Regions from separate parts of the Homo sapiens genome. Here all the other regions are reported to be linked to region 2. The links are microRNA targets in miRTarBase. Many come from high-throughput screens and were not tested one by one. Region 2 holds a microRNA gene; each other region holds the end of a gene's coding sequence.

What was found. Region 2 holds the annotated microRNA hsa-miR-488-3p (UUGAAAGGCUAUUUCUUGGUC, at 1,089-1,109, shown strand). A microRNA usually pairs through its seed, bases 2 to 8, with sites in the 3' UTR of a target mRNA and lowers its output. Matches are read on the target gene's strand: a 7mer-m8 pairs with bases 2 to 8, a 7mer-A1 pairs with bases 2 to 7 and ends in A, and an 8mer does both.
Region 1: miRTarBase lists YDJC as a target of hsa-miR-488-3p. Seed matches in the 3' UTR shown: 7mer-A1 at 2,701-2,707.
Region 3: miRTarBase lists TSHZ1 as a target of hsa-miR-488-3p. Seed matches in the 3' UTR shown: 7mer-m8 at 2,291-2,297.

The regions. Positions count from the first base shown.
Region 1 is chr22:21,625,390-21,628,641 of GRCh38, forward strand. It overlaps YDJC (YdjC chitooligosaccharide deacetylase homolog), which reads right to left. Exons shown (of 5, transcript NM_001017964.2): 5 at 2,700-3,252. The coding sequence ends at 3,029. Among named protein-coding and RNA genes, the nearest start is that of YDJC, 3.0 kb to the right of the region's middle. RefSeq lists a silencer at 1-263 and an enhancer at 2,467-3,074.
Region 2 is chr1:177,027,227-177,030,482 of GRCh38, reverse strand. It overlaps MIR488 (microRNA 488), which reads left to right and starts at 1,038; the gene lies at 1,038-1,120. It overlaps ASTN1 (astrotactin 1), which reads left to right. Exons shown (of 23, transcript NM_004319.3): 5 at 742-849.
Region 3 is chr18:75,288,102-75,291,357 of GRCh38, reverse strand. TSHZ1 (teashirt zinc finger homeobox 1) reads right to left here. Exons shown (of 2, transcript NM_001308210.2): 2 at 1,414-3,256. The coding sequence ends at 2,717. Among named protein-coding and RNA genes, the nearest start is that of TSHZ1, 79 kb to the right of the region's middle.

The DNA.
Region 1 (3,252 bases), not on the chromosome of region 2:
GAGCATTCCCCACCCGGTGCTGGCCAGGTTCAGAAACCCCCCTGTGGCTCCACATGTTGCCGTGGGTTTCTCCTACATCTTCCTCTGTGTGTCACTGGATGACACTGGATGACTGTCCCTGTATGTACCAGACTGGGAGCTCCTTGCAGACCAGGCCATGTCAGCTCCAGCCCTGGCCTAGCACAGAGTGGACCCTCCAGACACGAATGCCGAGTGGGCGGATAACAGTGAACCGCTTGGCTAAGACACTGTTGCTGCCCCCACAGCCCCTGTGGCCCACCAGTCACCACCCCAACAGGTCCTTATCACTTTCACCTCCTCGTGAGATGGGCCTCATTATAATCAGGTGGGCCTGATTATCCTACCAGTCTATGCCCCCTCACTTCAGTTTTTTTTTTTTTTTTTTTTTTTGAGTCAGGCTCACTCTGTCACCCAGGCTAGAGTGCAGTGGCATGATCACTGCTCCCTGCAGCCTCTACCTCCCAGGCTGAGTCGATCCTCCTATCTCTGCCTCCTGAGTAGATGGAACTACAGGCTTGTGTCACTACACCCGGCTAATTTTTGTATTTTTTATAGAGACAGGGTTTTGGCATGTTACACAGTCTGGTCTCAATCTGCTAGCCTCAAGCCTTCCTCCCGACTCAGCCTCCCAAAGTGCTGGAATTACAGGCGTGAGCCACTATGCCCAGCCATTATTTTTTCTTTTTTAAATAACAGAAATAAGGTCTTAGTATGTTGTCTAGGCTGGTCTGGAACTCCAGAGCTCAAGTGATCCTCCCACTTCAGCCTCCCAAAGTGCTGGGATGATAGGTGTGAGCCACTGTGCCTGGCTTCACTTCACTCAAATGCTCATGGTCAGCCGGCTGCTGTGGCTGATGCCTGTTAATTCCAACACTTTAGGAAAGGCCAAGGTGACCAGATCTCTTGAGCCCAGCAGTTTGAGACCAGCATGGGCAACATGCCAAAACCCCATCTCTACAAAAAATACAAAAATGAACCAGGCATGCCTGTGCTCCCAGCTCCTCAGGAGGCCATGGTGGGATGATCACCTGAGCCTGGGGAGGTGGAGAACTGCAGAGACGTGATTGTGCCACTGTACTCCAGCCTGGGTGACAGGATGAAATCCTGTCTTTAAAAAGAAAAAAAAAGTCTCACGGTCCCCAGGGCTGCTGTCGACTCTGCTCATCCCTCCTTCCCTCCCTGAGTGACAGTAGCCACTCATATAGCATCTGTGCAGACCCCCAGGTCTCTCCTGCCCACCCACACCTCTCCTGAGCCTAAAGCTGCACAACCAGCTGCCTCCTCCTCTCAGAACACTTCCATAACAGAAGCCCCTCAAGGGAGCTACGTCTGTATCCCCGGCTAACTTCAGGCCACCCCTCTCCCAGCCTTAGCCAGCAGCCTGCAGGAGTGTGGCCAGATCTCAGCAGGCTGAGGCGAGGAGGTGGAGGCTAGGCAGCAGGAGGAGCAACTGTACAGTGATTCCAGCTCACAAGCATGGGTGCAAGAAAGCAGGAAAAGTGCTGCAGATGGGAGAGTCCAAGTCTAGTGAAGGTCAAGATGGAAGACGAGTGTGGAGCCAGAAAAAGGGACTGAAGCCACAGTCAAGGGGATGGGGCCATGAGTGGGTAGAAGCAGGAAGGAGGAGCGACATCCCACACTCACCCTTCAGAAAGCCACACGTCTCTCCAAGCTGCCTAGGCTGGATGAGAGCTCTCTTGGCCCCTGATTCCATGTTTGGCCCAGGCTAGGGCCCAGTGCACATTAAATAAATGAATGAGTAGTTTCAAAGCCCTGCTCTGCCACTCCTGCCTCTACCCCTGTAAAATGGGGACATCGGTGCCTGCCTCATAGATGCTATTTCATGAAATGAGACAAGGACCACATGGTATTCCATCTGCCTTTCCATCCTGCGGAGTGGTGCAGAAGGACTCTGTGCTCTAGAGGACTCGCACTGCCTTCCCCATCTGCTCCTGCACCTCAGGAGCTTTCAGCTAAGCCACATGCGGCCCCAGTCCACAGGGCATCCCTACATTGCCAGAAGTTAGGAACCATGGTATCCCATTTCCCGGGAAGACTGCTCCTCCTAGAAAAATTTAAATGTATTCCCACAGGGTTGCAGGGTCTCCTCACGCCTATCCCGTAGAATGGCTTACATCTAAACAGATGACTTTTGTTTTTGAGATGGAATTTCGCTCGTTACCCAGGCTGGAGTGCAGGGGCGCGACCTCGGCTCACCACAACCTCCGCCTCCCGGGTTCAAGCGATTCTCCTGCCTCAGCCTCTCCAGTAGCTGGGATTACAGACATGCACCACCAATGCCCAGCTAATTTTGTATTTTTAGTAGAGATGGGGTTTCTCCATGTTGGTCAGACTGGTCTCGCACTCCTGACCTCAGGTGATCTGCCCGCCTCGGCCTCCCAAAGTGCTGGGATTACAGGTGTGAGCCACCACACTCAGCCTACAGGTGACTTCTTAAATCAATACTGAGATTATAGTATTATGCCTCTTCCAAAGCAGCCTGGTGAGGACAATCTCCCACTCCCACCCTAAAAAGGAATAAAGAAAATTGCAGCATGAACAAAACCAGAATGGAGAATGGGCCATTTCCTGGAGTGGTTTGAGCCAAGAGGGAGCTGCTCTTTGTCCGTGCTTGTTTCTCTGAGGGTCTCCTGGGCACAGCTGATAAACCACCCAAGTTTGAAAGACACACGTTATTTTATTAATATAGCCATCTCTCCCCACTGCCCCAGTGGTGAAGGTGTTTGCATTGCAACATGGAGGGGCACCAAATGCTCTGCGGGCCCTAGCCCGCTGCCACAGGCTAGGCCTGCCTGCAGCCAAGAAGGCTGCTCAAACTCTAGATGCCATTTGGAGGCATGAGGACCTGAGCCCAGAGGTGGCAGTGTCCTACCCAGGGAAGTCAACAGATCGTGCTCCAGGTCCCAGCTCTGGGCTGGGCCAGGACTAAATCCTGGCTCCCCTTTCTTGGTACTAAGGGGATTAGTGCTTGGTTGTCTGTAGGGGGTCAGAGTAGGGAGGGTTCCAGGAAGGGTTCCAGAGTGGGCTCACAGGGGACCTCCTCCCCTGGCCTCTTGGAGTCCAGGTCGTCGAGGGCGCAAAGCTGCACGCCATCCTGGGCAAGCTGGGCCCGCAGCGTGGGCGCGGTGAGGACGCGCAGCTCATGCAGCCGCTCCCAAGAGCAAGAGAAAGCGTCGGGGCCTTCACCGCAGCCGCCGGTGGGAGGCACAC
Region 2 (3,256 bases):
GGTTAACTACCTAGCACATCTGTCTGCTGTCCAGCACTTACCATGCAGCCATTTGAAACAATATAGATCTATATTTGTTAATATGGAAAGTTGCCCACCCATCTATTAAATGGGAAAAAAAATGAAGTTATAAAATAGAAGATACAGCATAATGTCATTTTTAAAGAGAGATTAAAAAACCTTTACCTGTTTCTGTGTCAGTAAAAGCCAGAGAGTATACACATGAAATGTTAGCAGAGTTTATCTCTGATTTAAAGGATTTAGAGGGCATTAGAATTGTTCCCTTTACATAGTTTTGTGCATTTCCTTTATTCTATTCTGTCTTTTTTGTATTAAATATATATAATTCTAGAGCCAGAAAAAACACAAAGATGTAATTTCCTATACCTCTTAGATAGTCTCATATTAACAGAATCATAACCTGTAATGAGGGAAATTTCCCTTTCTTCCTATTCCACCCACTTTCCCTGGAGGTCCTCTCTGGCAGATAGGTGCCAGAAATGGCCCTAGTCAGAGGGAAGTGGGTGGGGCAGGGTAGAGCTCCAGTGATTGCTGTCCCAATGGTCTACTTCTCCAACATATCCGTGTATGAGGAAGCCCCAACCCCCTTGGCTATTTCTCCCAGATTATCAGTCAGCTTACTTTCATTTTTGTTGATTTTCCCATTGAACTTGCCCAAAGGTTTGGTGTCATGAAACCAGAACTGAAAACGCTTTCTTGACCATGCTGCTTTCATTACAGCTGGTTCCGCCTTCTTGAACCCTGAAGGGGATTCTGGCACAGAGGCAGAAAACGACCCCCAGCTGACCTTTTACACGGATCCTTCAAGGAGCAGGAGGCGTAGTAGAGGTAGGAATGATAGAGGTGGCAGAAGGTGGTAAAGGATCTGGGAGTGAGGGAGGCGGGGGAAGGCGAAGAGGTGTTGGGTTGGGTTGTGGGCTCTATGGAACAAAACCAGTTTCTGCAAGAAGAATTTTTGGACCACAACTGGTGTTTCCTCCTAAGGAAGAAAGAAGAGCCTAGAGTGGAAAATTTCAGAGAATCATCTCTCCCAGATAATGGCACTCTCAAACAAGTTTCCAAATTGTTTGAAAGGCTATTTCTTGGTCAGATGACTCTCAATTTCTTCTGGAAGACTCAGGAGTCATATTTTGCTGTTCAGACAAACAAAGTTAATAAAGTGTGTTGTATGTGAAAAGATGGATACTATATGTACCCCTGCTTCCTCTACCACATTGGCCTTGGGTTTGAGCTAGGCAAGGATTGGGGGCAGTGTAGTTGAGGAATGATCTATGGCCTGAAAATCTGTGTAATTGTCTTTGACCTTTAAGCCCCTGCCTGGTAGAATCACAGGACCCCGAGCCTCCCAGTTCCTTCCTTTCCCCTGGCAGGGTTAAGGTGGCTAATCCATTCTCCTCCACGTGGACAGAGCTGTCCTTCCACGCAGCCACTGTGTGCCACTTCACTGTCATGATCAGTGGCTTCAACTGTGGCTATTCCGGCCACAGCTCCCACTGCCTCTGACTTCACTTGTATCACCACCACACCAGCGGAGTTCGGAGCACAAGCGCCGGTCAGCTTTACCAGTTATTTGCTGTGTGGTACTGGATAAGAACAACAAGTTCTCTGACCTTCAGTTTACTCACATGTCAAATGAGTTAACAATACCTTGTGCGTAGAACATAGAGCTTTATCAGGATTAAATTATATTAAAATGTGCCTTTTTGGAGATTGCTAAAGCACTATGAAATCCCTATTGTTGCTGTTAGAACTCTCCATCATGCAGCCCCATATTTATACAGTGCCCCATCTTAAAGAATTTTAGGCAGCGTCCCTGTAAGATACAGTAGAGGATATTTGAGTGGCATCTCCTTGTAATACATTCCATAACAATTTCCTCAACCAATAGTCAACCAGTGTCTCCTGAAAGACATATACATTTTTATTCTCTCGTACCTCCACTTGAATTCCCTTCATAACAGGTGTTCTTCCCAGAGATTTGAAGAAGCCCTTTTGATTATAAATTCCAGTTTCTATAGGCTTAACTACTATCAGTATAATAAAAGTTTTTCCATCATTTTTCTCAAGAGATCATTGTGGCTCTGGGTATTCTAATATTGAATGGCCAGGTTCTGTGAGGCGAGAATGTGGATTAGGGTCTCCCAATCTCCCTTGATACTTATTACAAATTTTAGACAGTGGATACCCAACCTAGGCCCAGCTAATCCAGGCCTAATCAAAGCAGGGTGTGTCCTGCTTTAATAAAGTCTTGTTTCAGAAAAATCCATGGTAATGAATTAGTTTCTCGACAGCATGAAACTGTTCCTTTTAAATACCAAGGTCTCCTAATGCATCAACTTTTTACGCTATTAACCAGACTGTAAGCTTCTTAGGGGTGGGGAATGCCTAATTTATTTTTCCAAAGTGCCTAGTGAAGGATTTTTCCTGTAACAGATGCTTGTAAGTGTTTGTTGAATTGGATTGGATATATCCATCAGTGCAGCAAAAACATTTTATAACCCACCTGCTGTGGGTCAGGTTTGTGATAGGTGGTAGAAACATGAAAATATGGCCCAGTGATAAGGCTTAATTTAATAATATAAATAAAGTGAAGAGAGTACTCAGAAGAGAGGACAGTTAATCCTACCTGAAAGCAATGGGAGGCAAAAAAGGAGAAAGTAATTAGAACTAGGTTTTATATATATGTATATATACACATACACACACACACACACACACACACACACACACACACACACACACACACACTGTACTGGGTTTCTCAAAAGAGGAGAAGAAGTCTAGGATAAGGGCATTTCAGTAAAGGAAAATGGCACATAAAAAGCCTTGAAGGGACAAAAGAACATGGTGTTTTAAAGGAAGTAAAAGTCGTTCAATATGGCAGCTGTCATCAAGTTATAAATATATACGCACACGAGATGGTAAGGATGAGGCTGGAAAATGGCTAACAAAGGACCATGCACATGCCATGTGACTGAGTTTCTGCTTGCCTCAGTGGGGTGTAAGGAACCATTGGAGGTTCTGAAACCAGGTAGAGATGCTGGATTATGGGTCGATGATGCAGAAAGACCATAGAGTCAGGAATATCCGTAGCAAGTCATTGAAATCACATGAGAGCAGTGGCAATTGCCTGTAAACAGTGATGATTCTATGTGATAAGAGCTCTAACAGCTCTTATCACACCTTATAGCACCAAGGGCTAGAACACCAAGGAATCAGTGAGAATCTGTTCTTG
Region 3 (3,256 bases), not on the chromosome of region 2:
ATTGGTTGGGAAATTAGGGTCAATGACAACGTAGCAATACAGTTGGTGAGTTAGGAAGAAAAAAATTTAAAGGAAAACCCCAATTCTATGTCTATCCCCAGTGATCGGAACTCAAGTTGCAAGCTGCTTTAAAATGACTCAGTGCTTAGCTGCACACTGGGACTGGGCCCAGCGACCCCGTTCTGGGGAGCGCTCACCTCCCTTTGTACCACTTCACCTGCTGCTGCTAACACTCTTGCTATAAGGGTGAAATCACATAATCGTATGTTTGCAGTTTTGTGGTAAAATAAACATAACTTCAAAGGATTATTATGCAAAGCCCCCACACCACTGCCATAAGCCTAATTGTTATTCTTCTCTGTCACCCCTTGAGCCCAAAGTACATAATCACCCAGTAATTGAACTGAAATGTCTAAATGGCTGAGGCTCCTAAAGGACATAGCTATTTACCAATGAAAAAAGTCAGAAAAATTTAGCAAACCTCCCTGGCGCTCTGCTGCGTTAGTACAAAAGACTGTGTAAATATGACCCACCTGGACCTGCTCCTCCTCCTCAAATCATTAATGGAAACAGAACAATCCTTGCTGTCACGGGGCAATGTGAGAGAAATAATTAAAATATCACAATTGCTTAGCTGTTTCTGAACAGAGCGGTGTAAGCTCTAACCTTTCTCAGGATATAATTTTATGAAAATTTAAGCAAAAGGCAGAAAAGTAAATTTTCCTGGTCGTATCATTAAGTGCTTCTGGGGCTGGGGGGAGAAGCCAGGGGGCCTCAATGTCAATGCTTCCCTCAATACAGACTGGGCAGTGAGTCCTGGGCTTTCAGGGATGGGGGTCACCCTGGAGGATGGGCGTTTTCATGGCAAGGGTCCTGACATTCTCAGTAGAGCCCGCCGTGCTCTAATCTGCAGAAAGAAGCCTCATCTCAAACACTGAATACAACAGCAGCCAGTTTTCTTTTTAAAATTGTAGATTTTTAAAAGCTCAGAAATCAGGTTTTCCTCTTTGGAGTAACACAGAACTAATTCCAGGGTCCTTGGGGTCTTTGCTGGTGGAGTAAGCCCTACCCCTCTACTCCCATCATTAAATATCTGGATAGACACACAGGTTAATTATACATATTTTTAAATTTTGCAAAGGATTCTCTGAAGGACGCATCTCAGCCCATCTAAGTACAAAACAGCCATCACTCAATGGCTAAACTCGGCAATCCTTGGCACCCAGTGGAGTTAAAAATTTTAATTATCATTTTTTAAAACGCAATACTTATCATTTGAATGAAACATGTCAGCACACAAATCATGAAATGATGATTCTGAATAGAATTTTTGTTGGTTGATTGCATAAGCAATACCTCTTGTTGCTGAAATAACATCTCAAAGGCAAAATAATGACGACATGACAATCCGTGTAAATCAAGAACTGCATGTGGGTTTATTTTACATCTGAGAAAACAGTGGATTTAATTGTGTGAACCAAAATGTACTGTACAATATTAATGATAGAACATCAAAATGTATAATTAATAGTGCATTGCTTGCTTTGTTTTTATGTATTTATTTTTGTCTGACAGTCCCTCTGAGTACATGCATCTGGAGAGATGCAGGTGCCAGTAAAAGTCCTCTATTTAAATCAAGCTGCAGGAACTAAATTTTATTCAAAAATTGTGGTTTTACATTATATACACAGAAATTTAATATAAAATGACAATATAAAAAGTTAAAAGAGAAAGCATACAGCCAGAAGGTACAAAGAAAGTTGAAGAGATTAAAATGGTACGATATGTAACATACAGGAGTTTTTAAGCTGATGCTGGCAATTTACAAGGAAAGGACTCCAACGTTTGCCCCATTTTTTTTCATTTACCAATGCAGCACGCTATAGAAAGGTCAGCTTGTACCAAAGCTTACATTTGTAAATAACTATAAACTGCAATATTTTACAGGAAAAAAGAAATAGCATTTTTACACATTTTTAAATAATAGCTTGCATACTTTTTTTTTTGCCGAAAGTGGCATTTTTCAGCATCCAGAGGGTTTGGGCATAGTGGCGAGTGGGGTATCTGTTGTTGTTGTTTTTTGTTTTAGACATGTAGAGGTGTGGCTTCCGAACCCCGTGAGTCCTAGACAGCTTTCTATCTTCCCACAGCTGCATGCATGTTTCCTCACAAACCAGTTCTGCATATAAAAGCTCATTTTTTAATTATTAAATAAGTTTTGTGTCTGACACAGCTTTTGATCTGAATGAAATGCCTTTAAGCCTTTTTTTCTTCTTTTTTTTTTTTCAAGTGAAAGGCACAGAAATGCAATTACAGTCCTCAAAGGGTTAAATTTGACACTACCAGGTTCTATGACCTTTATTGTCATGGCAACTTCACCATTTTAGGATGTCTTTTTATCATTGTTATTTGTGTCTTTCTTTACTGCTAAATAATGTCTCTGAGTAGTGTGCCCCACTATTTCCTACAAAAGATAGCTTAACACCAAGAACAGATGTTGAAAATAAAGGTCAGACTTTGACTCACGGAAAAAGAAAAATAACATGCACAGATCGGACAGAGAGCATATAAATATACAAAATATGTGTAAGAAAACCAAGGTCCAGAGAGGCGGGCCAGCAACAAAGGAAAGACTGATTTCAGAGGCTCAGGCCAGGCCTAGTGCAGCTCGACGACGTTTAGTGCAATGTTCCGCGGTCTCTTGCATACCTGGACGCTACTGTTTCTCCAACTCAGTCACATAGATCAGGTGGTCCTCGGGAGACTTGCCGTGGGTCTTACTAAGGTGCAGTTTGACTGCGTGCTTGCTCGCAAAAGTCCGGTTGCAGAGCTTACATTGGAATGTGGAGCCCAAGTCTTCCTCGGTGGCCCCCAGTGGGCCCAGAGTTTTGTTGGTGAGGACTTTCGAAACATTCTGCTGTTCTTGAATCTGATTGAGTGGCAGCTTGGAGAGATCCTTCAGGCTGAAGCCCAAGTGTGTCTCCAAATGACTTATGTATGTAGAAGCAGTTCTGAACTGAGAGGCACAATCGTTGCAAAAGAAAACAGGATGCCCTGTGTCCAGGTTCTTTAGGAATTTCGTTCCCCCTGTCCTCCTCAACTGGTACTTCACATTGGCCAGCCAGTGGCTGATGGTGGTCATGGAGAGCCCAGTAAACTTCGAGATGTGCACCCTCTCCTGCGGGCCCAAGTCCGACATGATGTACTTGCCCTCTGTGGTCTCCCGCAAGCTCGAGGCGAACTGGGCCTGCAGGAT